Linked DNA regions of Homo sapiens: region 2 is linked to region 1. Evidence: fine-mapped expression QTL. A gene starts in region 1. The other region holds a variant in brackets. All regions are shown on one strand. Distances are from middle to middle.

Region 1 (15,942 bases):
CGGCACATGCTTCAACAGGGATGAACCTTGAAAACACTATGCTAAGTGAAAGCCAATCACAAAAGACCACATGATTCCACTTACAACAAACGCCCAGAACAAGCAAATCTATAGACAAAAAATAGATCAGTAGTTGCCTAAGGCTGGGGGGCCCAGGGAGAAACGAAGGGCAACTGCTAAAGGGTACAGCGTTTCTTTTTGAGGGTTCTAAACGTTCTAAAATTGACTACACGACCCTGTGAATGTATTACATCAATTACAGACTTTAAAATGGTGAACTGTATGGTAGGCAAATTACACTTCAATTACGCTCTTTCTTAAAAAAAGCTAAGCAATCTCTGTTAATCAGAATCATTAAATAACGAGTTTTTCAGCTGTCCAGTATTAGAACAAAGCAAATAAGAAAACAATGATCTCACAGACATTTTTTTTCTCAGATATCTTGCTATACTGATTCAATCCAACCTTCTGGATAAGATGTTGTCCAGCAGAAATATATATAAGCCACAAGTAATTTAAAAATTTTAAGCAGCCATACTGAAAAAAAAGTTTTTAATAAAAGGTCAAATTAATTTTGATATTTTACTTAACTCACGATCTGCAAAATACTATTTCAATACATAATATATCAAAAGTATTAAGATATTTATTTTGTTCATACCAAATTTTCAAAATCTGGTATAAATTTTACACTTAACACATCTCACTTTTTAAGTACTTAACCACATGTGGGTGATGGTATCAAAGTGGACAGTATAGTTCTAGATCCACACTATACAGTATAACGTTAAATCATGTGTGTGATGATGACCCTAAGGCAAGTTGCCTTATCAAAGAAAGGCTCAATTTGACTCAATACGTTTAAATTATGTCTAAGTATATTAATATTTTCCCAGAAGTTTGCACTGACAGAAGGCACTTTCTAAAACCAGAGTATATACTGCCTGAACATTTCAAGTAAATGTACTTCAAAATTTTACACATAACCTAACAGTCTATGAAATCCCAGAATAAGCTAATTAGAAGTTACACAGAAACTCCCCTCCATTATCTGCACTAATGTCTCACATATATAACTCTCCATTCTTCTAGATGTTATCTTGCTCGTGGATACTTGGAAATCCTCAAAGCTCTTTTCAATAGCTGATGATGAACAATTAACCAAAAAAAAAAAATCTCATACACAGGGACTTTGTGCCACTACACATTTATGCTTTTGTATCTATTTACTTACATACAGGTTGAGCATCCCCAATCCAAAAATATGAAATCTGAAATGCTCCAAAATCTGAAATTTTTTAACACCATGACATCACATGTGGAAAAATCCCATATGTAACACCTTTGCTTTCTGATGGTTCAATGTATACAGTTTGTTTCACTCGCAAAATTATTTAAAATATTGTATAAAATTACCTTTAGGCTCTGTGCATAAAATGTACATGAAATATAACTGAATTTCATGTTTATATTTAGGTGCCATCCCCAAGATATCTCATTATGTATATACAAATATTCCAAAATCCAAAAAAAAAGAAAATCCAAAGTCCCAAACACTTCTGGTCCCAAGCATTTCCCATAAGGGATACTCAAAACCTGTATTACAAAAATCTCTATTAATGACAGCACCTTGGAATGTACACAGTGCAGTTTATATTCTCACTACCTATTCTAGCAACCTGTAAGTAAAAATTTATGTTACTCAGTTGATTCTGAGTGCTCCGTGAATAATAAATTTCACTCTAAATTGGAAAAAAGCTTAAGCTTTATTAGTAACCTTGAACAAGTAACATTATTAAATACCAAATGTATATAGCACTGTAAAAAATTAAGGCAACCTGTTTCTGCCTGTTGGTACTCACGACCAGAAACCAATGGAAAAATAGGAAAATAAATTACCACCTTACAATTTACCCAAGAAGTTTAACGTAATTTCATCTAATCACTTATTACAGCATGTTCATATAAACAGAATTTTGGTATAATGTGTTAAGGAATCTACATTACATAGAAATACTTATTGAAAGAAATTTTAACTTATAGAAAACGGAATTTGTCTGATACAGAGCATAAGCCTTCAATATTATCCTCTGGAGGTCTTCGGCTTACCCTCTGACCCTCCAAAATTAGGTACAAATTTTAAAGACTAAATATTTCCCAATTTCTAACTGGACACTTTCAGTGGAATTTTAATGTCATTAAGTATTTTTAATGACAAATTTTCATTTGTAACAAACAGTTTCAATCAAACCCTTTAAAATTTTTAAATTATAAAATGGCATATCTTTTGTGCTTCAAGTAGATTTTACAAATAGGTCATTTGAAAACTGCTTTTCTTTTTCTTCCACATTTTCCTGTATCTGTTTCCCTTGCATATACAAAGCCCAACTTGTCTACAGGTTCTCTGGTGTGGTGATAAGCGTCAATTTTTATCACATTTTCTGCTTCAACATAAAACAATGATCAAGAATTTAAAAATAAACTACCATCAGAAAAGGCTACTTCAGAAAGACTTTAATTTTATCTATTAACAATTCGTACTGGGCCGGGTGCCCGGTGGTTCACACCTGTAATCCTAGCACTTTGGGAAGCCGAGGCAGGCGGATCACAAGATCAGGAGTTCGAGACCAGCCTGGCCAACATGGTGAAACCCTGTCTCTACTACAAATAGGAAAATTAGCCGGGTGTGGTGTGGCATGCGCCTGTAGTCTCAGCTACTAGGGAAGCTGGGGTGGGAGAATCCTTGAACCCGGGAAGGGGAGGTTGCAGTGAGCCGACACCATGCCATTGCACTCCAGCCTGGGGGGTGACAGAGACTCCATCTCAAAAAAAAAAAAAAAAAAAAAATCTCACTTTGGTTACAGCAGAGTAAAATAAAAGCGTTCACAGAATTTATAATTTTAACATCACAAAAAGCAAAAACATCCTCACAGCTATAACATCATATATTGACTGAAAGGAATTTTTCTATTTATAAAATACTGATTATTTCTAATCTTTTGCAGTAAAATGCTGAAAGCACCCAGGATGGTGGAGGCATGAATTAGGAATCCTAGAAAAGAGATCCGAGAGCTTTAAAACTTAATATGGCTACACACCCGCTAAAATAGCTAAAATTACAGAGACTGACAATATCAAAATGTTAGCAGGGATATGGAGCAACAGGAACTCCCATGTATCTTCATTGGCGGGATGGTAAAATGATACAAGCATTTTTCAGTATATGTGCTGCTGAAGCCAGCACTCCTTTTTTTTTTTGAAACGGAGTTTCACTCTTGTTGCCCAGGCTGGACTGCAATGTCGCAATCTCGGCTCACTGTAACCTCCCTCTCCCAGGTTCAAGCGATGATTCTCCTGCCTCAGCCTCAGCCTCCCCAGTAGCTGGGATTACAGGTGCCTGCCACCACGCCCAGCTAAGTTTTGTATTTTTAGTAGAGACGGGGTTTCACCCCGTTGGCCAGGCTGGTCTCGAACCTCAGGCAATCCACCCGCCTCGGCCTCACAAAGTGCTGGGATTACAGGTGTGAGCCACCGCATCCGGCCCAGAAGCATTTTTTAAAACATAGTTTCTCACAAAACTGAAACATACAATTGCCCTATGACCTACTCAAACCAAGTCTAAGTATATAACCATGAAAGATAAAAGAGTAAGACCACAAAAAGACTTGTATAAGACTGTTCATAGTAACTAACTGCAAACAGCCCAGGTGACCTTCAACAGTGAATAGATTAATTATGGTATACACATACAGTGGAAAACTACACACTAATAAAAAGAAAGGAACTACTGATACACGCAACAAAGACGAAACTCAAAAACATTATGCTGAGTGGGAAAAAAAAGCCTTACCCAGAAAAATACACACAGTACTATAGGCTCTATGGGATCCCATTTAATGTTAAGTTCTAAAACAGGCAACTCTGTAACTTAGGGCATAAAAAAAAAAAACTGGGTGGTTGATGGAAAGGCCAAGTGACTGAAATGACTGGGAAAAGGCAAGAAAAAACTTTCTAGTCAATTATAATGTTCTATATCTTGATAAGAGCTTGGGCTACACAGGTGTAAGCATTTATGAAAACTCACGGAATGGCAACCATATGCATTTCACTGCTGCCAAAATTACGTCAAAAAAACGTAAAAAATGAAGTTGAACTTAGGCAAATAAGTTCACAATGCTGAAGTGACATGTACTGGTGTCATCTACTGATACGTGCAACTTACTCTGAATTGCTCCCCAAAATTAAATGAACTTGATAATCGATTATAATACCGTAAAATGCTAATTGTAGATGATGGACATATGTGTATCCACTTCCCAATTCTTTCAACTTTCCGCATGCTTGAAAATACAAAAATGGTAAGGAAAATTTTTACAAGCACTGGGAGACAAAAACAAAAGTGATAATTCTGTTGGTGGTAAAAGTTTCTCTCATTTGATGTTACACACCTCACTGCTTCACAAAATACACTACCTTTGGAACTCGTTAAACCAATACCCCAATCACCTACTGTCCCTGGGGAAACTGATAGGTACATTTCAGGAATTGTTGTTTCCTGTCACCAACTGTTCACGTTGTTTGCGATCTTCAGAGATTAAGTCAGTAATTATGGAAAACACGACGTATTCAACAATACACTAAAATTATTTGTTAAATTCCACCAAGAATCTTAATTAACTGCAAGATTTGTATTCCTGAACCAAGTTTAAGTAATATTCTGCATTCACTCCGATTTTCTTTTATTTGATTGCAACCGCTAATATCAACATCGCTATCGCCCCTCTAAAATCAAACAAAAACCTACCCAATGATTGGCATCTAAGAGATGATAAACATACTAAAAGGGAAAGAGCAAGTCATCAGTGAAAGAAAGTCATTCACTTTTCTCCTTAAACCTAGTACTATCACTATTACTTAAGATGGAGCTAAAAACAGTTTCTACGTCATAATTTTTTTTTAAAGGTTGCAAGGTGGGAAAGATTTCAGGAGTTAAAATGCAGAACTAAATATACACATGCACCTCACCCCAAAACCCACCTTAACAAGCAGGCACGTAAAACAACGAGGATCCCACCCACCCCTTTTTAATTCATGAAACAAAACCGCAGCCTGAGCTAAAGCGAACCCTCGCCCCCGCCCAGCCTCCACCCCGCCCGGAGGCTGGCGGTGGGTCCCTTTCCTTTGTGAGGAGTTGGAGGGGAGGCGACGGAGGGCGGGGAACTGGGGGAGGAGGCTGAGGGTCGGCGGATACCAGAGAAGGAAGGCTCCGAGAAAAGCGGCATCAGCCCGTCCCACAAACAGGCCGCGCCGCCACGCCACAAACCATTGCGGTGTCCCAAGGCGCAAACCCACGAACTTGGGTGTGATCTAATTTGGGACGACGCCCGGGAGAATGGCCGAGGACGACCCCTCTCCCAGGCCCTTCCAAAAGGTCTCCTGGGGCGGCGGGCGGAGGTCCTGCCGCCACCCCCATCCCGGCCCGAGCCCCAGGCGGCCTCACCTGCTGGACGGAGCTATTCTCGGGCACGGCGAATTCCTCCTTTTCCTTCGGGGTCTTCACGGTGACTTTCATGATTTTGGGCTCCGCGGAGGCAGCGGCCGCGGGGGCGCCAGCACCTTCGGCTCCGGCGGCGCTATCCTGGGAGCCCGGAGGACCGCCGCTTTCACCACTCTCGGCCATGGCTGTGGCGGCGGCGGCGGCGGTGACTCAGGCAAGCAGGAGGGAGCAGGCGAGCAAGGAGGAGCCAGCAGACACCAGAGCCGGCAGGCCTGGACAGCGAAGAATGCAGAGCACGCCGCCTCAGTAGCAACGGGCGCAGGGCCACCGTAGCGGGTGTGGGGCCCCGGAGCTCGGTGCAGGCTCTGGCGCAGGCCCGGGTCAGGCGCTCGGCAGCCGCCGTGTGTTCAGGCGCCGCTCGCTCACACCGACATCCGCAGCAGCCACCGCTTCCTCCTCCCTGCCCCTTCCCCCACGTCCCTTCGCCGGCGCCGCGCGGAGCACGCCGGGTAACGCGCCTGGCGGCGTCGCCGAGTCATCCCCGGCTGGCGCGACTTTGAGCTCAGCCTGCGTGCCTTTTCCTTTCCCGCTCCATTGCCCAAAGTGCAGGCGAAGCCAGTGTGAAGGACTAAAAGCAAAATGGGGCGGGGTAGGTCAGTTCATGGTTTTTTTCCACTCCTTTCACCAAAAACTAAATCGCAGTTTCCAGTTAAGCGCTGTAACGGCGCACCGAGATGACGTCACGGTTAGCGAAATTACTAGAAAGGGACCAGTGGGCCCTGCGGCCGCGGCTGCGCCTGCGCGCTTGCTGTCCAGGTAGTCTCCCCACCTTACCTCATGCCCAGCTGGGCCGTGTTCACCCCTCCGCGCTGTCACAATCGCCTTGCCCTCCCTTGCCTCTCTGTCTACTCTGCGTTCCCCGCTGGGAGGAGGGTCTGGTGATAAAATAGCGGCGAGGTATTTTGTTATTTTAATATGCTTAGCGTTTGATATTTGGAGGGGTCGTATTGCCCTATGCGGGGGAGTTGGGGTAAGTTAATGGTGGAAAGGCCTCAGCACAACGAACAGAAAATGGAGTGAACGCCCGTGACTGCCCTGCGCAATCCTGCGGAGTCATTGCTTCATGGCCAGAGCTTATTTACCGCCCTCGGGTTAGCCCGGTTTGGTCAGACGATCAGTCAGGCAACCTGTATTGACAGTGGCCTCTGCTGCTACGATGACAGCTGTGCGCGAGCGCCCCCAGATTATCTGTGTGTAGGGCGGAACAGGGTGCCCGAGGAGTGTCCACCCAAATGGGACAATTTAATATAGTTGAGGTGTTCGCCTTATATTCTATCAAATTAAGTTACTGGTCAATTTCAGGCTTTAAGTGGCATTAAGGATAGTTCCAAAATTATTTTCAGTGTAATACAGAGAGAAATTATCTCTGAGAATCCTAATTTGAAATGACGTCATTGGCTTTTAAAGATGACTTGCAAGGAATGTACAAACCAGCCCATTATTAATCAATGTTGCACAATTTAAATCCTGACAGCCCACTATGACCCAAATCCGCAAAGATACATTCTGCCTTTCTGCTCCTAAGCCGTCCAACCCTGTTCTGAGAATAAATACTGTTACATAAACACGACTTTTTAGCAGAGCTCTATGGAATCTGGGTCTAAGAGAATCCTGAGGGTATCGATTTCAGTATAGACATCATTTGATATCACCTAAATTTCTGGCAGCATGGCTCAATAACAAGGCCTTCTGCTTAATGAAGGATGACTACTTGGTTATGTCCAGGTGTGAGATGATCACTGCTTCTAAAGCTAGAAAGTGCCACAACTGGACAACCAATCATTTGGAATTTCTTCCATATGTCTAAATAAAATTTCTCCTCAACTTCATTAGCTCCTCATTACCTGTTTTTCCCTGTCATGCTGTGTCTTACCTGCATGCTTTGCCTAGGCTGCCTTCCTCTACCTAGAATGACTTTCCCCTTGCCTTCACCTGTCTAACTTCTACTCATCCTGTATCACATGCCCCAGGAAGACTTCACTCCCTACCATTTAGAGATATGGTTTTTCCCTTGATTCTCCAACAAATACCGTGTGTGTGTGTGTGTGTGTGTGTGTGTGTGTGTCTGTCTCCCTGCATTTATGGACTTTGCAATTATCTGTGTCTACATTATTGTCTAAAAATGTTTGATGTGTGTGACACTATAAGGTAATAAGATTTACCTGTAAGAAGATACCATATAGTTATCCATTGTTATGGCACTTTTTAGATATAATCCTGACCTGCATGAGAATCGGAGGTGGGGGCACTATGGTGTAAATCAGAGATTAGTGAACTTTCTGGGAGGGCTAGATAGTAAATATTTGGTTGGTGCCAAAAAAAAAAATTTGCAAAAACCGCAATTATTTATGCATCAACCTAATATTTTAGGCTTTGTGAGCCACAGGATCTCGGTCTAAAACACTAAGCTATGCCCTTGTATCACAGAGTAATCATAGACAATACATACATGAATAATCATAGCTATGTTTACTAAAAACTCTACTTGCAAAACAAAAACAGACATAGGATCTGATTTGGCCTACAGAAGATAGTTTGCCAACCCCAGGTCTAGATGTTTATTTGTGGCATTTTCTTCTGAATGGTTTTTGTTTGTTAAATGGTCTGTCTGGAGAAAATTTTAAGAACATATTTTATCACAGTATCCTAATACTGTATAATACTATATTGAGCATACAAGAATAATAAGACTCAGTTTCTGCCGTCAAAAAACTTGAAGTGATAGTTGGATGATGGGGGTGAGGGATAGGAGGGAGACTGGCAGTGATGTCCTGGTAAATGACTAATAACCAGTCCTCCTGAAAATAAACTTTATTACATTTGCCAATTTCCTTGATGTAAATACTTGCAAATGGTTACCAACTTGAGATCCTCTGCCTCACAAAACACGTGAAATTTTACCAGTAAGCCCTCACAAGCCAGTATGAGCCAGCTCCAACTGAAGAAGTCCCATTTTGAGAAAATCCATTATTCAGAGTTCAAGTATATTGATAGAAGGTTATTATTCACGATAGAATAATTCTTTTTTGACAAAATGATTCAGTCAACTCAATAAGAATTCATTGAGTATCCTCTGACAAACTTTAATCCTCTAATCTTGTGTCCAGGAACATACCTTTAATACGAGGTAGTACATATGTCATGTAAGTGCTATAAATAACATGACTTCATCATGTTACTAGGCTACTGAAAAATCTATCATAAGTTTCCCACTGCCTAGAAAATAAAGCCAAAGCTTTTTATTTTTTTTGGAGACAGTTTTTTTCTGTCGCCCAGGCTGGAGGGTAATGGCATGATCTCGGCCTACTGCAACCTCCGCCTCCTGGGTTCAAGCGATTCTCCTGCCTCAGCCTCCTGAGTAGCTGGGATTACAGGCATGCACCACCACGCCCAGCTAATTTTTGTATTTTTAGTAGAAACAGAGTTTGACCATGTTGGCCAGGCTGGTCTCAAACTCCTGACCTCAGGTGATCCACCCACCTCAGCCTCCCAAAGTGCTGGGATTACAGGTGTGAGCCACTGCGCCCAGCCCAGAGCTTCCTAACTAGGCCTTCCACAGGTAACTCCTAGTGTTGACTCCTGTTGCTCTCAATATATATGCTCCATTCCAGTCAAATACCTTTATTATCATCCCTAGAAGCACTTATACATTATACTTTTCTTAACTTCTGATCATTCCTTCAAGTCATTACACCCACCTCCTTGTACCCATTATTGCTACCTGCTTTCTGAAACTCCTTGAATACCCAAGCTTACAGAATCTGACCTTCCGTCATAATTACCTGCACATTTCACTTGACCATTCATCACTTGTAGCACAGCTTCTATTATCTGAAACTTTCTCCTGCTACCAGTCTAGTTTACACCCTCATGAGCTCTGGCCTAGATTACAGCAATAACCTCCTACAGATTCCTCTGCCTCAATCTAAAGTCTCCATCCTCAACTCTTATTTTCCTGTGATGCCATATGTTATCCTAGAACGAAGCTTTGATTATGACACCTGCTTGAAAATTTCCAGTCACTGTCACCAAAGTGTTAAGAGTAATGTCTAAACTTTGTGGCATGGTGTCCAGGGTCTTCTGTAAACCAAAGACCTTGCTCTTCACTCATATCTTATCCTCAACCAAACTGGTCAGCTAAGCTCTCCAAGCATGTCTTGCACTTTCCAGCTTCAACTGCAAGTAGAAATTCTTCCCCCTTATTTTGACCCCATCATTTTACCCATCCCGCAAGACTCAAATGTGACATTCCCTAATAACCCTTTTTGGATCCGAAATAGTCTTTAAATCCTCTGTATTCCCATATAGCTTTATTACTTTTTGATGTCACTTACCACATTCTGTCTTGTATCATATGTCTGTGCATATCTCATTTATTAGATAAAGGCCTTGAAAACAGGGATCAAGTCTTAATCATCATTTATACCAGAGGTCCCCAACCCCTGGGCCATGGACCAGTACCAGTCTGTGGCCTGTTAGGAACTGGGCTACACAGCAGGAGGTGGTGAGTGACAGGCAAGCAAGCATTACTGCCTGAGCTCCACCTCCCATCAGATCAGCAGCAGCAGCGGCATTAGATTCTGTTAGGAGAGTGATCACTATTGTGAACTGGGCATGTGAGGGATCTAGGTTGTGTGCTCCTTAAGAGAATCTAATGCCTGATGATCTGAGATGGAAGAGTTTCATCCCAAAACCATCTCCCCCTGACCCCCAGTCCATGGAAAAATTGTCTTCCACAAAACCGGTCCCTGGTGCCAAAAAGGTTGGGGAACTGCTGGTCGGTACAAAAGTAATTGTGGTTTTTGCACTGTTGGAATTTGTCATTTGATATTGGAATACATTCTTAAATAAATGTGGTTATGTTATACATCATTTTAATGTGCATTTCTTTTTTTTTTTTTTTTGCTAATGACATTGCTGTTTGTTTTATATTTATTTTAGACTATGGAAATGATGTTAGACAAAAAGCAAATTCGAGCAATTTTCTTATTCAAGTTCAAAATGGGTCATAAAGCAGCGGAGACAACTCACAACATCAGCAACACATTTGGCCCAGGAACTGCTAATGAACGCACAGTGCAGTGGTGGTTCAAGAAGTTTCACAAAGGAGAGGAGAGCCTTGAAGATGAGGAGCATAGTGGCCAGCCATCGGAAGTTGACAGTGACCAATTGAGAGCAATCATCGAAGCTGATCCTCTTATAACTACACCTGAAGTTGCTGAAGAACTCAACATTGACCATTCTACAGTCGTTCGGCATTTGAAGCAAATTGGAAAGGTGAAAAAGCTTGGTAAGTGGGTGCCTTGTGAACTAAGCGAAAAACAAAAAAATTGTCGTTTTGAAGTGTCATCTTCTCTTATTCTACGCAACAACAGTGAACCATTTCTCGATCAGATTGTGATGTGCCATGAAAAGTGGATTTTATACGACAGCCAGTGACAGCCAGCTCAGTGGTTGGACCAGGAAGCTCCAAAGCATTTCCCAAAGCCAAACTTGCACCAGAATAAGGTCATGGTCACTGTTTGGTGGTCTGCTGCTGGTCTGATCCACTACAACTTTCTGAATCCTGGCGAAACCCTTACATCTGAGAAATATGCTCAGTAAATCGATGAGATGCACCAAAAACTACAACACCTGCCGCTGGCATTGGTCAACAGAAAGGGCCCAATTCTTCTCCACGACAGTGCCCAACCACACATTGCACAACCAGCACTTGGGAAATTGAACGAATTGGGCTACGAAGTTTTGCCTCATCCTCCATATTCACCTGACCTCTCGCCAACCGACTACCACTTCTTCAAGCATCTTGACAACTTTTTGCAGGGAAAACGCTTCCACAACCAGCAGGATGCAGAACATGCTTTCCAATAGTTCGCTGAATCACAAAGCATGGATTTTTATGCTACAGGAATAAACAAACTTATTTCTCGTTGGCAAAAATGTGTTGATTGTAATGGTTCCTATTTTGATTAATAAGATGCATTTGAGCCTAGTTATAATGATTTAAAATTCACAGTCCAAAACCACAATTACTTTTGCACCAAGCTAATACCACACAGTGCCCAGTGTGATTTCTTGGCATGAGAGCATTTATTGTTGAAATGAATTATTGAACCATCCTGTTTTCCACCAGAGAGGAAACTCCTTTAGAGCAGTAGATCATATTTTATACTCCTTTGTCTTTCCTGAAGTTTATAGTATAGTGACATAAATAGATGATTGATTAATTCAAAGAAAGATAGATGTATACATACATGCCTTAGAACTTATTTGCTTTACAATAGAAGTTCAAAGAAATAAAACACTGGGGCAGGGGAAGGTGGAAAAGTCAGAGGCTTTTGAAAGAAATGATTTTGAGCCAGCCCTTAAGGAATGGATATGATTTTAAGCATGTTGAGAGGGACGATGTCTTGAGAAAGAGTTCATAATGGGGAATAGAAACTCTCCTAGAACACCAGTCTCAAATTGGGTCCATAGCCTAGGAACAATTGGAACACTTCATAAATATCTCTAGGGCTACTTCAAAATCAAAGGGAATGAAGTGTTCCAGTTGTTTCTGAGTCTTCGGGCTGGAGAAGAGGTGGTGGTAAAGATGGGTGCTTATTAATTTGCCAACTAAAACTTTAGACACTGGGTAGAAGGAGCAACTATTAGGTTGGTGCAAAAGTAACTGCAGTTTTTGCCATATTTTAATGACAAAACTGCAGTTACTTTTGTACCAACCTAATATATGTACGGCCACTACAAACTTTGGATAAAAGTTGCTAAGTAGGATCCCATAGTTTTCTTGGTGCTGTACCAAGCACTGCATAACACACAGAAGCAAAGGGGGCTGGCAGCGGCACAAGGTAAGGAGACATAGCAGCCTCTTTGGAGAACATGGCTGGGGCTCTATTCGTTTTTTCGCTTTTTATTTTGAAGTAATTATAGGAAGTTGCAAAAATAGAGTCCTGTGTACCCTTGCTTCCCCCAGTGGTGGCATTTGATATTGTTGCATAATATCAAAATTAGGAAATTGACATGTTAACTAGACTACAGACCTTACTGGTTGTACCATATTTTTAACCTGCATTCATTTGCATGTGTGTGTCTGTATGCATGTAGCTGTATGCAAAATTCCATACATAAATTTATGTTACCATCACTGCAGTCAAGATACAGAATTATTCTATCACCAGTCTATTTTTAATCCTTCCTGTATTACAGGGTTTTTCAACCTTGATACTGTTGACATTTGGGGTCAGATCATTTTATCTTGTGGGGGGCTTTTCTGTGCATTGTAGGATGTTTAGCAGAATCCTTACTCACTAGATGTCAGTAGCAGTCCCACCCTACCCCTGTCATGACAATAGAAAATGTCTCTAGACTGTGCCAGATGTCACATTGGAGGCAAAATTGCTCCTGGTTGAGAACCACTGCTGTACAGAGAGCTAGTGGAATCCTCTTTACCATCTGCATCTTTCCTCTTATTTCCCCTCTTACAAAGTGGAGTAGCAAATGTTATCAAGTATCAAAAATGATATTTCACGTCAAAGTCTTTTTAATTCTGAGTCTATTAGAATACTCAAGATAAACTTCACTGCGAATTTTTCCCAGTAGATGGTAAGTCTTGCCAGGATTCCATTATAAACTTAATCTCAGTTACTGCATCTCACCTACTCATCCCTTATCAAGAGTCTTGAATTTACTCAGGTCTTATGAAAATGCCTGAAAATATTTGAAGACTATTCTCCTTTGACCTCTCTTACAAACAAGTTACTGCTCATAACCTAAGACACAGTCCCTAAGGCAAGCATTGACTATCTTGCAGAAGTGTTAAGACTGGTTCTCCTGGAAACATATGAATAGAAGGATATATATTTTGATAAGTAGACTCAGGTTTGGTCTTATTTTGTGTGTAAAACTCTAAGCCTGGTGATTTCAGTGGACAAATGTATTCAAAACAAACATACTTGGAATGTGTTTCTTGACCTTAGGAGGTTAGCTTATGTGAAGAGTCTGCCGTCATGTATAAACTAAGCAAATGAGCCATGGGGAAATTTTAGGTGATTACTGAGGACACAGAAAAGAAGGTTAGGAATTTTCAAAATCTGTAGTATGATGCCAATCATCCAAGAATTCCAGAGGATACTAATGCTTCTGGGGGGAAAATATAATGCTTCTGGAAGCTGAGAGGTGTTTAAAGAAGAAAGTATTGTCTTCCCGTCATTCATTGCACTTGAATAATTCTTACAGCCTTTTTTCCCATTTGAGAATGGTCAATGAGTTGAAAGGTCAAGGCAGAACCTGTGGCTTATCCAAGTTCTATAATATGTCAAATAACTGTGAAGGATCTGAGTCCCCACTTACAAGCTATCAGTTTCAAACTGTAAACACAAGACTCCTACATGAGAAACAAAGGTCTTTGTTACTCACAGCAGTATCAGTGGCTGCCATGTCAGCATTTTCTTGCACCAGTTACCCAAGCCCTAATTTCCACAAGGTGATACAAAGAGAGCTAGGTGACACCTGTACACACAGTGGTTTGCATGATAAGAGAGGAAATCCAAACATGGGGAACCCAAATCTTTTATAATGGGCAGTAAGCATGACTTCCCTTTGCTTTGTAGGAAGATACTTTATCTTCTAAGACTGTTCACTATAGAAATACCCTTGGAAAAATAGTCCAGGCCAGGTTTGGTGGCTCACACCTATAATCCCAGCACTTTGGGAGGCGGAAGCGGGCAGACTGCTTGAGCTCAGGAGACCAAGACTAGCCTGGGCAATGTGGCAAAACCCCATCTCTACATAAAATGCAAAAGTTAGCCAGGCATGGTGGCACCCACCTGTTGTCCCAGCTACTCAGGAGGCTGAGATGGGAGGATTGTTTGCACCCAGAGGTTGAGGCTGCAGTGAGCTGTGACTGTGCCACTGCACTCCAGCCTGGGCCACAGACAAGACCCTATCTCAAAAAAAAAAAAAAAAAAAAGACAATTGTCCAGAAGAAACACAATATATTAGTTTGCTATTGCTGTTGTAACAAATTACCATGAACTTAGTGGCTTAAAACAACAGATATTTATTAACTTATAGTTCTGGGGATCAGGAGTCCAAAATTGATCTGAAAAGGCTAAAATCAAAGTCTGTGTTTCTTCTGGAAGCTGTAAGGGAGAATCGATTGCCTTTTCCAGTTTCTAGAGGCTGCCCACATTCCTTGACTTGTGGCCACATCACTCCAACCTCTACTTTCATTGTCATATCTCTTCTGACTCTCTGCCTCCCTCTTTCCTTCATAAGGATCTTTGTGATGATGTTGGACCCACTCAGATAATCCAAGATTCTCTCCCCATCTTAATATTCTTAATTGCATCCTGCAGAGTCACTTTTGCATGTAAGGTAACATATTTTCAAAGGTTCTTTTTTTCTTTTTTTCTTTTCTTTTTTTTTTTTTTTTTTTTTTGAGACGGAGTCTCACTCTGTCACCCAGGCTGGAGTGCAGTGGCACGATCTCGGCTCACTGCAAGCTCTGCCTCCCGGGTTCACGCCATTCTCCTGCCTCAGCCTCCCGAGTAGCTGGGAGTATAGGTGCCCGCCACCACGCCTGGCTAATTTTTGTATTTTTAGTAGAGACGGGGTTTCACCATATTAGCCAGGATGGTCTCAATCTCCTGACCTCGTGATGTGCCTGCCTTGGCCTCCCAAAGTGCTAGGATTACAGGCGTGAGCCACCGCGCCCAGCCAGGTTATTTTTTTCTTTTTCTTTTTTTAAGAGATAAGATCTCACTCAGTCACCCAGGCTGGAGTGCAATGGCACGATCACAGCTCACTGCAGCCTAACCTCCTGGGCTCAAGCAGTCCTCCCACCTCAGCCTCCCCAGTAGCTGGGATTACAGGTACACACCACCATGCCTAATTTTTTTTTTTTTTTTTTGTAGAGATGCGTTCTCCCTGTGTTTCACAGGATGGTCTCAAAATCCTGGGCTCAAGTGATCCTCCGACCTCAGCCTTCTAAAGTGCTAGGATAATAGGCCTGTGCCACTGTGCCCAGTCTCAAAGATTCTGCAGATTAAAATGTGGACATTTCTGGGCAGCCATTGTTCTATCCACTATAGCCAGGCAGTGCCTCTATTCACCAGATGTGCAGAATCATGGAAGACCTATAGAGAATTGTCTCTCAACATCCACCCCTTGTTTCTGTACTTTCTTGACTTCTGGCAAACTTTCCCATGAGTATGCCACACTGTTAAGTCACTCTGATGAATCTTCACCAGAGGCTGAGACCAAATCTATTCAATTTGTTTCATACAGCATTAATAAGGCTATTGTCAACAAGACTACTGGTAGCAAGATAAGGCCAACCTGCAATATTAATAACCATGTTTTCCAGGGTTCCAGGCACAATCGGC
Region 2 (15,942 bases), 750 kb after region 1:
GGCTCACACCTGTAATCCCAGCAGTTTGGGAGGCCGAGGCAAGCGGATCACCTGAGGTCAGACCGGCCTGGCCAACATGGTGAAACCCTGTCTCTACTAAAAATACAAAAATCAGCCAGGCATGGTGGCAGGTGCCTGTAATCCCAGCTACTAGGGAGGCTGAGGCAGGAGAATCGTTTGAACCCGGGAGGCGGAGGTTGCAGTGAGCCAAGATCATGCCATTGCACTCAAGCCTGGGCGACAGAGCCAGACTCTGTCTCAAAACAAAAAAACAAAAAACAAAACAACAACAACAAAAACCCAAAACCAAACCCTTCTATGATGGGATGCAGGAAACTTCTGAGTTGATGAATACATCCACTTCCGGGGAGGGTGTTGCATCTCAGCTCCATGGGGACAGAGGCTCTTGTGCTGGGGACCCTCCCAGGCCTCACCCTATGCACGTCTTCATCTGACTGCTCATTTGCATCTTTTATAATAAATGGTAATAGGAAATATAGTATTTTCCTGAGTTCTGTGAGTCATTCTGAAACCACCATTGCAAAATTGTGACTGAGTTAGTGAAGGAGATCTGACCTAACCGACTTCATCTTGTGTCTAGCCTCCAGGCTGTCCTTGTTTGTTCCTGGCCGTGGGCTGGGCTAACTTTGAGAGGAACTTGGTTTATGGTTTAAAACAAAGACGATGGCAGCTCTTTCCCAGGGCAGACCACCTTCTTGCCTGGGAACTAGACTGCCTTTGTAGGACTAATAAATTAGCCACAAGATTGGAAATTGTGGTTTGGGAGTCACGCAGCTGGAGGCTATGGGATTCTGACCCTCCCTAAACTGTTCCTACGATCAGTGCTTGAGATATTTTGCAGACCCTGCACTTGATGGGTCAGCTGGCACCACCCAGATTGATTGGCTGGTTCATCTGATCTTGTGGCCCCGACCCAGGAACTGACTCAGTGCAAAAGGACAAATTCAATTCCCTATGATTTCTTTCCTTTTTATTTTTATTTTACTTTAAGTTCTGGGATATGTGTGTAGAACGTAAAGGTTTGTTACATAGGTTCCCTATGATTTCATCTCCTACCTGACCAATCAGCACTCCTGGCTCACTGGTTTCTCCTCACCCACCAAGCTGGCCTTAAAAACTCTAATCCCTGAATGCTTGGAGAGACTTGTTTGAGTAATAATAAAACTCCGGTCCTCCACATAGCCGGCTCTGTGTGAATTACTCTTTCTCTATTGCAGTTCCCCTGTCTTGAGAAATCTGCTCTGTCTAGGGAGCGGGCAAGGTGAACCCATTGGGTGATTACAATTCTAGCCAATTACTGAGGTTGAGGAAGGAGGTTGTGGGAACCCCTGACTTTGTAGCAGAGGCAGACAGAAGTCCAGGTAACCTGCGCACCCAGACTTGCAGCTGGCGTCTGAAGGGAAGGCGATTTTATGGGACTGAGCCGCTTAGATCTGTGGAGTCTGGTGCTAACTCTGGTTGTTAGGGTTAGAATTGAATTGAACTGCAGGACACCTGGTTGGTGCTGGAGGATTGGCTGGTGGAGGAAAACCCCTAACAGGCTCTAGCCCTAGATGTGCTCTCTCCACCCTGAGCTGTAGTCTGCTGTTCCAACCTCTCACCCTCATCTGGGTTTTGATAACTTGCCCAGTTGCCAGCCCTTGTACCCCTGGGCTTCTACCTTGATCTTTGCTAAGCTCTCAAGGATCTGAGATCCTGGCTTTGGTCACGAGCCCAGTGGCTGTTCCCCTGTTGCCTGATGGCAGGTATCCATGAGTCTAACTCCTTGTTGTTCTCCAAGCATTGTCCACTGTCTTTGATTTCCTACATTCTCCTCTGTTCACATCATTAGGACACCTTTTCCCTCCATTAGAATGATTTGATGCCACCAGCTTTATAGAACCTCTAATGCTATGCATCCTGGAGCATTCACTCAGCCTTCCAGAAGGGAAGCACCTACAGTAGGGCTTTCCCCACCAAGCCTGTCCCTCTAGTGGGCAAGGTCAGTTCCTGGTTCTGGACTCTCACACCATGTCCTGATGCATTGCAGCCAACAGGGCTATGCCCCACTGGATTCTGAGAAATGATGTCAGCCATGAACTTGGCCATCCCAGGACCTAGTTAAATTAAGCTCTTTAGATCCATGACTTGGCACATGTAGCTTTAAGGGTCATAGGGCTGTCATTGCAAGGCCAAGATATAGGCAGAAAGGAACAGGAAGTCAGAAGAAAAATAAAAATTATGAGAGATTAAGGAAGGGAGACGGGATGGAGCAAATATGCATATTGAAGGAAATGCCACAATCTTGGTTTCCGGTGTCTTCGGGGGAACTGTTTCACTAGATACTCAATGGACCACCAACCTGCCACTAGGACAGGAATACCACACACTCAACGCTGGGCAAAGTGCTGCCCTCAAAAAGCAAGAACAGAATTATATATACCATGTAGTGGCCTTTAAAATGTGGGATGTGGCTTAAAATGAACCTGAATTTGCATCTCAGCTGAGGAAACTTAGACAAACTACCTGACCTTTGGAAGCCTCAATTTTCTAATTTCTGAAATGTGGGGGTAATAACAGCAACTTCCAAGTGCTTGGCACAAAGTGGATGTTCAATAGATGATGACTCTGCGTTTCCTCCTTGTCACTTTTCCTGTCACAGCACCACAGCAGCACAGTCTTAGAGGCTTTGCAGTGCCATTTGCTGCTTTTCCTGAATGGTGACTTGAAGCAGCAGACTTCTGCACACTACCTACTGTCCAGGTGTCCCAAGGCCAGGCTATATGTGGCTGCTACAATTGTCTCTTGCAGGAGGCACATAAAAATGTGCTCATCAGTGTGGGCTGCCATATTTAGGACTAACATCTAACATTAGATGAGTCAACATCCAGGCGCATTGTCATTGGAATTGCTGGGAAAACACACAGGCAACCCCCACTCACTGGCCCCTGCTTTCCTAAGCCTAGGGAGCCACCCTGGATATCAGGGGGTCTTTCCAGGATAAGTATTGTAAGGGCAGCAGGTTAATAGCAGCCTTTTTACTCATGAACACAGGTGAACATCAACATCCAACAAATATAGGGCTTCTGCTGCATGCCAGCCACTGTGCTAGATGCGAGGGATACCACAGTGTGCAAGACACATCATTCACAGGGAAACGGGGAGAAGAATCATCTGTCTACAGATTAATATCTAGAGTCAGGCAAAGAACCTCCTCATACAGAGTGAAAATAGAGTATTATTTGTAAATTGGGCACCTATTATTTGCTTTTTGCTAACGGAGGATCCTCCCCCAACTGCCCTGCTTATTTTGAGACGGGGTCTGTGTCACCCAGGCTGGAGTGCAGCTCGGTGTAGCCTAGACCTCCCCAGCTAAGATGATCCTCCCACCTCAGCCTTGTGAGTAGCTGGGACTACAGGCATATGCCACCACGCCCAGCTAATGTTTTGTATATTTTGTAGGGACAGGGTGTCGCCATGTTGCCCAGGCTGGTCTTGAACTCCTGAGCTCACGCATCTGCCCCCTTCAGCCTCCCAAAGTGCTGGGACTACAGGCATGAGCCCCTGCCACCGGCCCAGAATGTATCTTTTTTGAAATTCATTTTTCTACCACATAAAGTGATTAAAAGACAACTAGTTGTTGAATTCAAGGCAAATGAGCAACTGTCTATTGGTGAGAAGTTCTATGATTCTGGCTTGGAGATGTCTGCCATGCAAACGTATAGGGCAGCCCTGGGGGGTGCTGCTGACAGCCGAGAGGGCTGGTCAGTTACAGAGGGCTTGGCTGGATGGGGCTTTGAATTCTTGGCTCTTTTGGTATAAAGAGAAGGAAAGCAATGTCTCCACTGTGTCCCCTTCTTAGAAGAGAGCCTTGTTTAATGGCCAAAATGCAGACATGGGATTTAGCTCTCATAAATCCTACCTCTTCTCTGCCCCACGTGTGGCTTAAGTCATGCTAACCTCACCCTGTCTCAGTCTCCCTTTCCTGTAAAAGCAGAGAGGCAAGCAAGGATTTCAGAGTCAGAAAACATGTATGGCATTTCTGGCTCCACCATGTAGAGCTGAGAGGAGTTTAACTCTTAGAACTTTCTCTTTCTTTTCTTTCTTTCTTTTCTTTCCTTTCTTTCCTTCCTTTCCTTTCTGTCTGTCTGTCTTTCTTGTCTCACTCTGTCGCCAAGGCTGGAGTACAGTGGCACGATCTTGGCTCACTGCAACCTCTGCCTCCAGGGTTCAAGCGATTCTTCTGCCTCAGTCCCACAAATAGCTGGGATTACAGGTGTGCACCACCACCCTGGCTAATTTTTTGTATTTTTTAGTAGAGACAGGGTTTCAACATGTTGGCCAGGCTGATCTTGAACTCCTGACCTTAAGTGATCCACCTGCCTCAGCCTCCCAAAGTGCTGGCATAACAGGCATGAGCCACTGCGTCCCACCTAACTCTTAGAACTTCTGTTCTCTTCTCTTACAAATCATTCATTTACAGTCTTTGAAATCAGAAATAGGACTTTACAGCCCCATGGAGAATAAGCCACCCCATGATGCTTATTGAATAGATGGATGGACTGCTACGCTGAAGTATGACTTCATCTATTTCAAGTGCCTTGAGGCCCATGGATCAACACCTGTATGGACACGCCAATGGTCTTCAGAGTCACTGCCTGGGTCCCTTACAGGGATGGGTGTGTCAGTGAGGTCTGGCACTGCAGCTACATTGGGAGAATGTTCACATTCATCTCTTGTTTATTTCGTGTGGATTACTTTGCCTTCTCAAAACCCATTACCCAACATTGCTCTCTTCAGCCTGTGGACCCTGCCCCACTCCTGCCCTACCCCTGGTGAATGTCTCCAGGTGTGTTTTCTCTGGCAAAGGAGTGATCTAGATTTGAAACTTGCCTTGCCACTGGCCATCTGTATGACTTGGGATGAGTTACTGCATCTCTCAGAATCTCAGTTTTTTTTTTCCTCTTTATCAGCTCCGTTGGGGAGAATATGCCTGTGATGCTTTTATCTTTCTTCTGGCAGAGTAGTGGTGAGTGTCAAATGAGATAATATTTTGTGTGTCTGTGTGAACAGAGTTTGAAAATCTAGAAGTGGTTGTAGTTACCAAAGGTGGAAGTTTTGTAATTATGAGTTATTAGCATCCCCCAGCCAGTAGGTTTGTATATGTCTTCCCAGCCACCTCTCAGATGCCCAGGTATACTATATAGAAAATAAAAAGAAGCAGAGAATTGGCAGGGCATGGTGGCTCATGCCTGTAATCCCAGCACTTTGGAAGGCTGACCAGCCTGGGCAACATAGCGAAACTCCATCTCTACAAAAAATAACAAAAATTAGCTGGATTTGGTGGCTTACTTCTGTAGTCCCAGCTGCTTGGGAGGCTGAGGTGGGAGAATCAATTGAGCCCAGGAGATTGAGGCTGCAGTGAGCAGAGATTGAGCCACTGCAATCCAGCCTGGGCAACAGAGTGCAGTGTCTCACTCAACAAAACAAAACACCCCCAAAGAAATAGAGAATTAAAAATGCACCTTAATGGTCAAATTCCATACTATGTTTAGAGAAAGCCTCCCTGCTCTCTGGTGTTTTATTGACTTATTTGACCCTGGAGGCAGAGATTTCCGTGGAATTGCAGGAAGACTAAAGTAAATATATGCAATTTTCTATTTATTCATTCACTTTTCTACCAGCAAGTCATTATTGAACATCAGCTGTATACAATGATGAATCAATCATAGATCTGCTCTTGTGATTGTTTCAAAATGTTAGGAGAAATAGTGCTATATCTTAAATCACAATACAAAGGATAAAATGATAGGCACTACTATTACAAGAGAGATATAATGCTGTGGTTACGCTGAAGAGAGAGAGAGAAAATTTATTGCCAAGGGGAAGGAAGGCTTATTAAAAGATTTTTTTTTTTTTGAGATGGAGTCTCACTCTGTTGCATAGACTGGAATGCAGTGGTGCAATCTCAGCTCACTGCAACCTCCATCTCCCAGGTTCAAGCGATTCTCTTGCCTCAGCCTCCCGAGTAGCTGGGATTACAGGCATGTATTTTTAGTAGAGATGGGGTTTCACCATGTTGGTCAGGTTGGTCTTGAACTCCTGACCTCAAGTGATCTGCCCACCTTGGCCTCACAAAATGCTGGGATTACAGACATGAGCCACTGCGCCCGGCCAAGAAATGGTTTTTAACTGAGTCTTGGAAGGTGGAGAAAATGTTAACTTAAAGAGGTGGGCTGGGGAAGGGAGGGCACCCAGGCAGAGAAACAGACTCGAGTGAAGGTGGGTGCAGAAAGGAAAGGGCTTCTCTCCATTCTCAGTGCCCAGCCTCCTCGTGTGACTTTGAAGTCCCCTTGATCCCTAGTGTAGGTTGTGCTCCTGGTATTAAGCTTGGTTTTTTTTTTTTTTTTTTTTTTTTTTTTTCCATTTCTCTCTTTCTTTTAAGAAGTCCTGTTTTTTTTTTCTTTGATCATTCTTAAGTTTCCAAAAATAATCTGCTATCTTGCCATGCAGTGGATGTTTTCTTTTTCCTTAGGAACCCCCATTGAAAATATTCGGTACATCTCAGCATGAGAGGCCCCTGGCACCTGCCTGCATAACCTTGGTTGCATAAGATGCAAGAGGTCCATCAACTTTCTTTTTCTGGAATATGAAGCTCACTTCAAAGTGCTCTTCGGTTGACTAAGCCTTGGGAGGTGCCATGTCCAATCACCACTTGTCAATTATTGTGTCCTCTGGGTCCCCTGCCTTGCTATAAGATCAAAGGAAAGGGTAGTCCCATTGTACAAGTGAAAATAAGGTTTGTTGCCTATTGGTAGCTGATGTGGAGTGGAAACTAAATAACGGAGGTCAAGAAACTGTCAGTCCAGAGTGTGGAAAGGATCTTCAGTGTGTCTGAGATATCAACCCAGGTGGAAAATGAAGCCTAAACCACCATAGCATTCCAGATGACTGAACTGCTCAAGCGTGAATGCTTGAGAGACTCTCATTCATTTACTTGATTCATTTTACAGGAAGCTGGGACCAGTCCCCTAAATTAGGTTATACTGCATGGCTCTCTCCTCCAACCATAATCAAGTAGCAAAATAAGCAGAGCCAGCATTCCTTGATTCTTACTGGGTATATGTTGATTAATAAAGTTGGGCTGCCCTAGAGTATAAGATGATGATTTTTAGATTGTCAGTTTATTATTATTATTATACTTTAAGTTATAGGGTACATGTGCACAATGTGCAGGTTTGTTACATATGTATACATGTGCCATGTTGGTGTGCTGCACCCATTAACTCGTTATTTACATTAGGTATATCTCCTAATGCTATCCCTCCCCCCTCCCCCCACCCCATGACAGGCCCCGGTGTGTGATGTTCCCCTTCCTATGTCCAGGTGTTCTCATTGTTCAATTCCCACCTATGAGAGAGAACATGTGGTGTTTGGTTTTCTGTCCTTGTGACAGTTTGCTCAGAATGATGGTTTCCAGCTTTATCCATGTTCCTACAAAGGACATGAACTTATCCTTTTTTATGGCTGCATAGTATTCCATGGTGTATATGTGCCACATTTTCTTAATCCAGTCTATCATCCATGGACATTTGGCTTGGTTTCAAATCTTTGCTATTGTGAATAGTGCCGCAATAAACATACGTGTGCATGTGTCTTTATAGCAGCATGACTTAACACTCCTTTGGGTGTATACCCAGTAATGGGATCACTGGGTCAAATGGTATTTCTAGTTCTAGATCCTTGAGGAATCGCCACACTGTCTTCCACGATGGTTGAACTAGTTTACAGTCCCACCAACAGTGTAAAAGCATTCCTATTTCTCCACATCCTCTCCAGCACCTGTTGTTTCCTGACTTTTTAATGATCACCATTCTAACTGGCATGAGATGGTATCTCATTGTGGTTTTCATTTGCATTTCTCTGATGGCCAGTGATGTTGAGCCTTTTTTCATGTGTCTGTTGGCTGCATAAATGTCTTCTTTTGAGAAGTGTCTGTTCATATCCCTCCCCCACTTTTTGATGGGATTGTTTGATTTTTTCTTGTAAATTTGTTTAAGTTCTTTGTAGATTCTGGATATTAGCCCTTTGTCAGATGGGTAGATTGTAAAAATTTTCTCCCATCCTGTAGGTTGCCTGTTCACTCTGATGGTGGTTTCTTTTGCTGTGCAGAAGCTCTTTAGTTTAGTTAGATCCCATTTGTCTATTTTGGCTTTTGTTGCCATTGCTTTTGGTGTTTTAGACATGAAGTCCTTGCCCATGCCTATGTCCTGAATGGTATTGCCTAGATTTTCTTCTAGGGTTTTTATGGTTTTTAGGTCTAACGTTTTAAGTCTTTAATCCATCTTGAATTAATTTTTGTATAAGGTGTAAGGAAGGGATCCAGTTTCAGCTTTCTGCTATGGCTAGCTGGTTTTCCAGCACCATTTATTAAATAGGGAATCCTTTCCCC[A/G]TTTCTTGTTTTTGTCAGGTTTGTCAAAGATCAGATGGTTGTAGATGTGTGGTATTATTTCTGAGGCCTCTGTTTTGTTCCATTGGTCTATATCTCTGTTTTGGTACCAGTGCCATGCTGTTTTGGTTACTGTAGCCTTGTAGTATAGTTTGAAGTCAGATAGCATGGTGCCTCCAGCTTTGTTCTTTTGGCTTAGGATTGTCTTGGCAATGCGGGCTCTTTTTTGGTTCCATATGAAGTTTAAAGTAGTTTTTTCCAATGCTGTGAAGAAAGTCATTGGTAGCTTGATGGGGATGGCATTGAATCTATTAATTACCTTGGGCAGTATGGCCATTTTCATGATATTGATTCTTCCTATCCATGAGCGTGGAATGTTCTTCCATTTGTTTGTGTCCTCTTTTATTTCATTGAGCAGTGGTTTGTAGTTCTCTTTGAAGAGGTCCTTCACATCCCTTGTAAGTTGGATTCCTAGGTCTTTTATTCTCTTTGAAGCAATTGTGAATGGGAGTTCACTCATGATTTGGCTGTTTGTCTGTTATTGGTGTATAGGAATGCTTGTGATTTTTGCACATTGATTTTGTATCCTGAGACTTTGCTGAAGTTGCTTCTCAGCTTGAGATTTTGGGCTGAGACGATGGGGTTTTCTAAATATACAATCATGTCATCTGCAAACAGGGGCAATTTGACTTCCTCTTTTCCTAATTGAATACCCTTTATTTATTTCTCCTGCCTGATTGCCCTGGCCAGAACTTCCAATACTATGTTGAATAGGAGTGGTGAGAGAGGGCATCCATGTCTTGTGCCCGTTTTCAAAGGGAATGCTTCCAGTTTTTGCCCATTCAGTATGATATTGGCTGTGGGTCTGTCATAAATAGCTCTTATTATTTTGAGATACGTCCCATCAATACCTCAATTTATTCCCATTTATCCCATCAAAACTCTCAATTTATTGAGAGTTTTTAGCATGAAGGGCTGTTGAATTTTGTTGAAGGCCTTTTCTGCATCTATTGAGATAATCATGTGGTTTTTATCTTTGGTTCTGTTTGTATGATGGATTATGTTTATTGATTTGCATATGTTGAACCAGCCTTGCATCCCAGGGATGAAGCCAGCTTGATCATGGTGGATAAGCTTTTTGATGTGCTGCTGGATTCGCTTTTTGATGTGCTGCTGGATTTGGTTTGCCAGTATTTTATTGAGGATTTTTCACCGATTGTTAGTTTTATGAGCTAATAAATTTTAAAAAATTGGGTTCCAACACAGAATTGTTAACTTTATATCTTGCTGAATTAAGAAATTAAACTAAAAGGACCTTGACAGTGACAAACTTATGGTCATTATTTTTAAAAGAATTATACATCTATCTATCTATTTTTGAGACAGAGTCTCGTTCTATCGCTCAGGCTGGAGCGCAGTGTTGCTATCTCGGATCACTGCAACCTCTGCCTCCTGGGTTCAAGTGATTCTCATGCCTCAGCCTCCCAAGTAGCTGGGATTACAGTGTGCACCACCATCCCTGGCTAATTTTTGTATTTTTAGTAGAGATGGGGTTTCATCATCTTGCCAGGCTGGTCTCGAACTTCTGACCTCAGATGATCCGCCTGCCTTGGCCTCCCAAAGTGCTGGGATTACAGACGTGAGCCACTGTGCCTGGCAAGAAATATAATTTTTATATGAATTATTAGGAAGTGCATAATCTCAGAATAAAAGATGGCCCTTCCTAAGAAAGCACATTTGGTAATCTTCTACCTTGGTTTTTGCTCTAAAATGCTTAAGACGGCATCATGGTGAGCCCAGGTGGTGGGACTGGCCTTTGGGGACTCTGTATACTAGATGACCACTGAGTTCATTAGTCTATTTGGGAAAGATCGCATATGGATTGAGGAACTTCATGAGGGCATGGATCGTTCTGGAGACAGCCATGTCAATTCTTACGATGTTTATTTTGTGCTGGCATCATATTTCCTGGCATTTGGGGAGTTGATGGAATGGCCCAATTCACTTTTATTCTGAGTCATTTGTGGGAAGAGAAATTTAATTCTCTGGGAACCCTTGTTCGTATTAGTGTTAAATCATTTGTCTGCTGTTTAATGATTTATATTCACAGAGCAAAGAGGTCCCAGAATTGCATTCCTGATTGTGCTACCCCCCAAAGCCTCCCTCTACCACTCTAAGTTAGAGAAATAATTTAGTCTTGTGCCTTAGGGAATCCACTCAAGACACTACTCTTCAGTTTACTCATTGCATGTATATATATCTTAGTGTACTGATATTAGGCTTTTAGTTGAGTACTAGACTTCTTGAGTTTACTTAAATTGGCACTATATTGTATTTTGTGCTATTAACATGCTGAACTGCTTTTGCTTTGTTAACTCAGCAATTAGGTTCCTCCCAAACTTTATGCACCCTTTTTGGTTCATAAATTGTGATTCTCTGATTTATTTTTCTTGAGTTCATATGTTTAATGTGGATGGGCCTTTGGTGCTCATTAAAACAGAGACTTTTATTTGAAAGGTTGTTCTCTAGGTTGTGCTGGTGGGACCTCATATATTACACTTCTCAACATTGCCATCCATAATTTAGTGTAGTGTTCCTATGCATGTAATGTTTCAGCATTTGCAGTGCTTATGAGTAATTGACAATCTATGATGGTACCAATAAATCAGACAAGCCAGGCTCAGCCTTTTATGGTCAGTCTACCAGGGAGGAAAGCTGAAAATCAGTGACTGCTATTAACTGGGAGCTTTTTAGATCATGAAGTCAGAGAAAGCCTTTATTATTAATACATTTTGAGTGGTTGTTTAAAGTAGATATCCTGGGTTGGATAAAGAGACATGAAAAAAATGAATCTTAGTTTATTTTCTTTTAAGTTATTATAATTCATTTCAAAGGAATGACTTATTTTGACAAAGTGAGTGAACTTGAGTTGTAATGTGTATAATAGACTGAATGATGAAGGAGACCTTGGGTTGCATGATGTATTACATATGTCGCAGAGTCAGGGAAATTAGGATTTACTTTCGTGAAATGCAAATCTGGAACAGTGTGGCTTGGGCACCACAACACAGTACAACACGAAGTGTGGTGCATAATGCAAAATACAGCAGTGTGTCTGGAATGTTTTAAATGTTACATTGCTTAGGGATGGGTCTGGGAACGTGTTTTTGTGAGACACATACCTTGAATTTCCATTGTTGGTCATGAGTATTCCACACTGGCTCAAAACTGATTATTGTCTTTTTGTAATATTCTTTTTGACATTGGGAGAGGTATGTAGGGGTCAAAAGCTTGCAGGAGGAGCCAGGCACAGTGGCACATGCTTTTAATCCAATCCCAGCTACTCGAGAGACTGAGGTGGGAGGATCACTTCAGCCCAGGAGTTGGAGACCAGCCTGGGCAATATAGCTATACTCTGTCTTACATATACACACACAAACAGACACACACACACCCACACACACACACACAGAGTTTGCAGGTGGGGAAAAAGTGCCCTCTGGTGTTTGAAAACTCCTGTGCTGTGAAATAGAAACCGTTATGAAGCTGGGTTAGATGGGATTAAAATGCATGAGCTCTAGAGGCCGGTTGGCCTCTGGATTTCATTTCCCGCCTCTGTCATTATTGTACCAGACATGGGACCTTGGGCAAGCTGCTTAACCCGTCAGAACCTTAGTTTCTTTGTCTCTAAAATGGGGAGGAAATTCTTGCCTCATAAGGATGTTTTGAAGAGTAGACATTTGATACACACCTGGATAACTGCTAAGTAACTTTAGGCTTTCCTCTCCTGTGCATCTGGAGAAGAAATAGTCATCACGCAGCTTCTAGCTCTGTCAACTCAGGAGTCTCTAAACATTCTAGAACAGCAGTGCAATGGCCATAGGTTAAAACAGAACCCTGTCTATGCAGCTGGAAAGAATGCGGAACCATTTAGTTCAGGCTGGGGTTGACAAGGCTGTCTTTTCAACGTTAGCCTTGAAAAAAATCACTTATACCTGTGAGTTTAAAAAAAAGCACAGGTAAATTTATTTTTTCATATCTTGTTTTCAGGTTAGAGATCCTTTCTTGTATTGATGTATGGAATTAATGCGTGAAACCCTACTTCAGCTAATGATGCCTTTTTTTGGCAATAAAAAATGTAAATAGTCTGCTTGGGAGTGAATAAATAGAAATTCAGGTGTACAGTATTGTCCTACTTGTAACAGGGGTCAATCATGAGTATGTTTACTGAGCAATCAGTGTTTGCTAAGAGCAAGAAACTGACCTGCTCACTATTTTGACTTATTGATTCACTAAGATCTTACTTCTTGGCCTTTTCTCTAAGAAACCAGTAAAACTATCTTTTAAAAATTCAATTATAATGTATATTACTGGTATATGCAAGCAACACAAAACAAAACAGTCTTCTAACAAAACCTTGACCAAAGAATTATACAGGTGCTGTGGCTCATGCCTGTAATCCCCATGCTTTGGGAGGCCAAGGCTGGTGGATTGCTTGAGCTCAGGAGTTTGAGACCAGCCAGAGTAACAAGGTGAAATCCCACTTCTACAAAAAAATACAAAAAGTTAGCTGGGTGTGGTGGTGCATGCCTATAGTCCCAGCTACTCGGGAGGCTGAGGTAGGAGGATTATTTGAGCCCTGGAGGTCGAGGCTGCAGTGAGCCATGTTCACACCACTCCACTCCAGCCTGGGTGACAGAGCAAGAAAAAAGAATAACATCTTGGTAGTTATATAGCAAAAAACTGACCAGGGGAAAATTTGTCTGGTTAAAAATAATCAACATGAACTTAAAAAGGCAGTGGCTAAAATTATACATGATAATTAAAAAAATACATTATGGAAAAATCGAATCTTTTTGAAAAAATTTAGATCTAAAAAGCTTGGGTTAGAAACATTGGATTTGACCAAAATATTGGCCACAGAAAGACAAGACAGAACAAACGAGGAACACCTTTTGTGATGATTAATTTTAGGCGTCAACTTGACTGGATGGAGGACTCCCTAGAGTGAGGGTATTTCCAGAAGAGACTCGGCATGTGAGACTTAGTGGACTAAGTGGGGAAGATCTACCTTCACTGTGGGTGGGGCATCATCCAGTGGGCAGTGGGCCCGGATAGAACAGAAACAGAAAAAAAGGCAAATTGGCTTCTTTCTCTGGGAGCTGGGATACACTCTTCTGCTGCTGCTGGAACATCAGAACTGTAAGCTCTCTGGCCTTTGGACTCCAGGACTTAGACCAGTGGCTGTTTAGGTGATTAGGCTTCTGGGCTCAGACTGAGAGTTACACCATCAGCTTCCCTGGCTTCCTGGGTGCTACTGGCTTCCCAGGGTCTCCAGCTTGAAGACAGCCTGTCGTGGGACTTCTCAGCCTCCAAAATCATGTGAATTCCCCTGATAAACCCCCTTTTGTATATCTGTATACCTATATCTGTCTTCTCTATCTCTGTCACCTTTATTTCTCTATCTATCATCTATCTATTGTCTATGTATCTATTGTCTATCTATCTATTGTCTATGTATCTATTGTCTCTCTCTCTCTCTCTCTCTCTCTCTCTCGATTGGTTGATTCTATCTCCCTAGGGAACCCTGACTAATACACCTCCCAGTGGCAGATGCTAAATTCTGTAAAATTTGGTATGGACATAAAACTAATCAATGAACTAAATTTCACTGGACTAAATTTATGCCATAAATTTTATGAGGAAATGATTTAATAGCAATCAAACTAAATTTATTAAAATAGAAATAAAAATGGAAATAATTGAGTATCGTTTAAGCAAGGAATTAAATTAATAGAGTTCACTTCTGAAAATGTCTCTTTATGAACATGGATTCATGTTGGTGCAACTCAGACCTCTCCTGGTCCACATGCTCTAGGGATGTTCTGACACAGTACAAATTCCGAGCCCTAGCTGTGGCCTGGCCCTGCGCGGCTTGGCTGTTAGTTATGCCTCTTGCCTCATCTCCTCCACCTGGCCCTGGTTCCCTCTGCTCCAGCCACACTGCTGTCCTTACTGTTACTTGTACATGCCAGGCACACACTCCTTTGATCTTGCCATGTTACCTCTTCTCCCAGATATCACCCAATTCACTCATCACTTTGTGGTGGTCTCTACTTAAGTATCACTTCTCAGAGAGAACTTCTTGGACTACCCTACTCACTCTCCACCCTCTTTCCTTGCTTTCTTTTTTCTCATGGTAATTACTATTTCCTGACATTATTATATCTGTCTATTTGTCTTGCCTCCTTGGCTAGACTGTGGGCTCCAAAGGCTTTGGTTCACTGCTCACTCTGCAGTGTCTCAAAGAGGGCTGGGGATGCAGGAAGCTTGACAAATACTGGTTGAACAAATTCTCATTAAAATGTTTGCATTCATTACCACAGAGCCAACATTTTCCCTGCATTGAACTTCAGAGTCAAAATATTCAAGAAGTCAACATTGGAGGAGAAAAGGGACAGGATCTACATATTCTGCATCACCAGAACCCGTGGTCTGCATATGTGGCCAACATTAGTGCCATTCACTGATGGTTCTGATTTTCTTCCTTCTGGGTAATTCCCCTCTGTCTTGAAGATGAGCATGGTCATAGGACTTGACTTGGTCAATGAAACATGAGCAGAAGGGATGCATGTCACTTCCATGTAGAGAAGCCTTGCAGAGCTCCTGTGCAATTTCCTAAGTCCTTCTCCCTGCTGTGGTGAACAGAGACGCTCTTGACAATTGTGACTTTATCATCCTCGGCCCTTGAGGGGGGATGGTGGGTGCTGGAGCTCTCCCACCAACCTGAGTTTGATGTGGAGCAGGAGGCAGAGCTATTCTTCTGTGGTTTTAGGGCCACTGAGATTTTAGGGTTGTTTATTGCATAACCACCCCCAACCATTTAATCTTTACCTTGGCCATAGGTGGCATTCATTATTATTATCATTTATCACCATGGAAATAGACTTCACAGAGGACAAGCAATTTGTCAAATGTCACATAGCTACTAAGTGGCAGAACTGAAAATTCAAACCCAATTCCAGCTTATTGCATGACCTGAGCTCTTCACTTGATCTTCGCCAAAAGGCCGAGAAGTGATGGCCTGAGCTCTTAAACATAAGCCTGCCAACTTCTCAGGAATTATCAAATATGTTACAGTCCACAGGGGCAAAAACATGCTCATAAGAGCTACACCAGGCTTGTTCAAAACCAGGGAACCATTTACATCCTTTCAAAATCATGTGACATGGCAGTGATCCAGAGAGATCATCAGATCTCTAGGTATATAGTTTCCTTTGACTGCCAGCACATGCAATAAATTAACTATTAAAACCCATGTGAAGGTAACTTGGATTTGATGACTTTGGAAGGGGGCTGGACAAGTTCCTGCTTGGGTAGATTTTAGCTATTCCATCATTTCCATTTAGAGTTTTGAAAAACCCAGTGGCTTTACCTAGAAACAAAACAGACATATTCTAAAACTGATATTTGAGGAGGCCCAGTATATTCTT

Evidence for each region. PIP is the estimated chance that this variant, and not a neighbour inherited with it, causes the effect.
Region 2: its variant is fine-mapped to the expression of UBQLN1-AS1 in cerebellar hemisphere (GTEx, PIP 0.97).

What each region holds. Positions count from the first base shown.
Region 1 is chr9:83,702,000-83,717,941 of GRCh38, forward strand. It overlaps UBQLN1-AS1 (UBQLN1 antisense RNA 1), which reads left to right and starts at 5,836. Exons shown (of 2, transcript NR_135839.1): 1 at 5,836-6,313; 2 at 10,499-11,497. It overlaps UBQLN1 (ubiquilin 1), which reads right to left and starts at 5,959. Exons shown (of 11, transcript NM_013438.5): 1 at 5,501-5,959. The coding sequence starts at 5,680. RefSeq lists enhancers at 4,982-5,872, 5,640-5,709, 5,873-6,761.
Region 2 is chr9:84,449,794-84,465,735 of GRCh38, forward strand. All of the region lies in intron 2 of LOC102724036 (a long non-coding RNA gene), which reads left to right. LOC124902192 (a long non-coding RNA gene) reads left to right here. Exons shown (of 2, transcript XR_007061630.1): 2 at 14,836-15,767. Among named protein-coding and RNA genes, the nearest start is that of SLC28A3, 120 kb to the left of the region's middle. The variant A/G (reference allele first, on the strand shown) is at 8,453.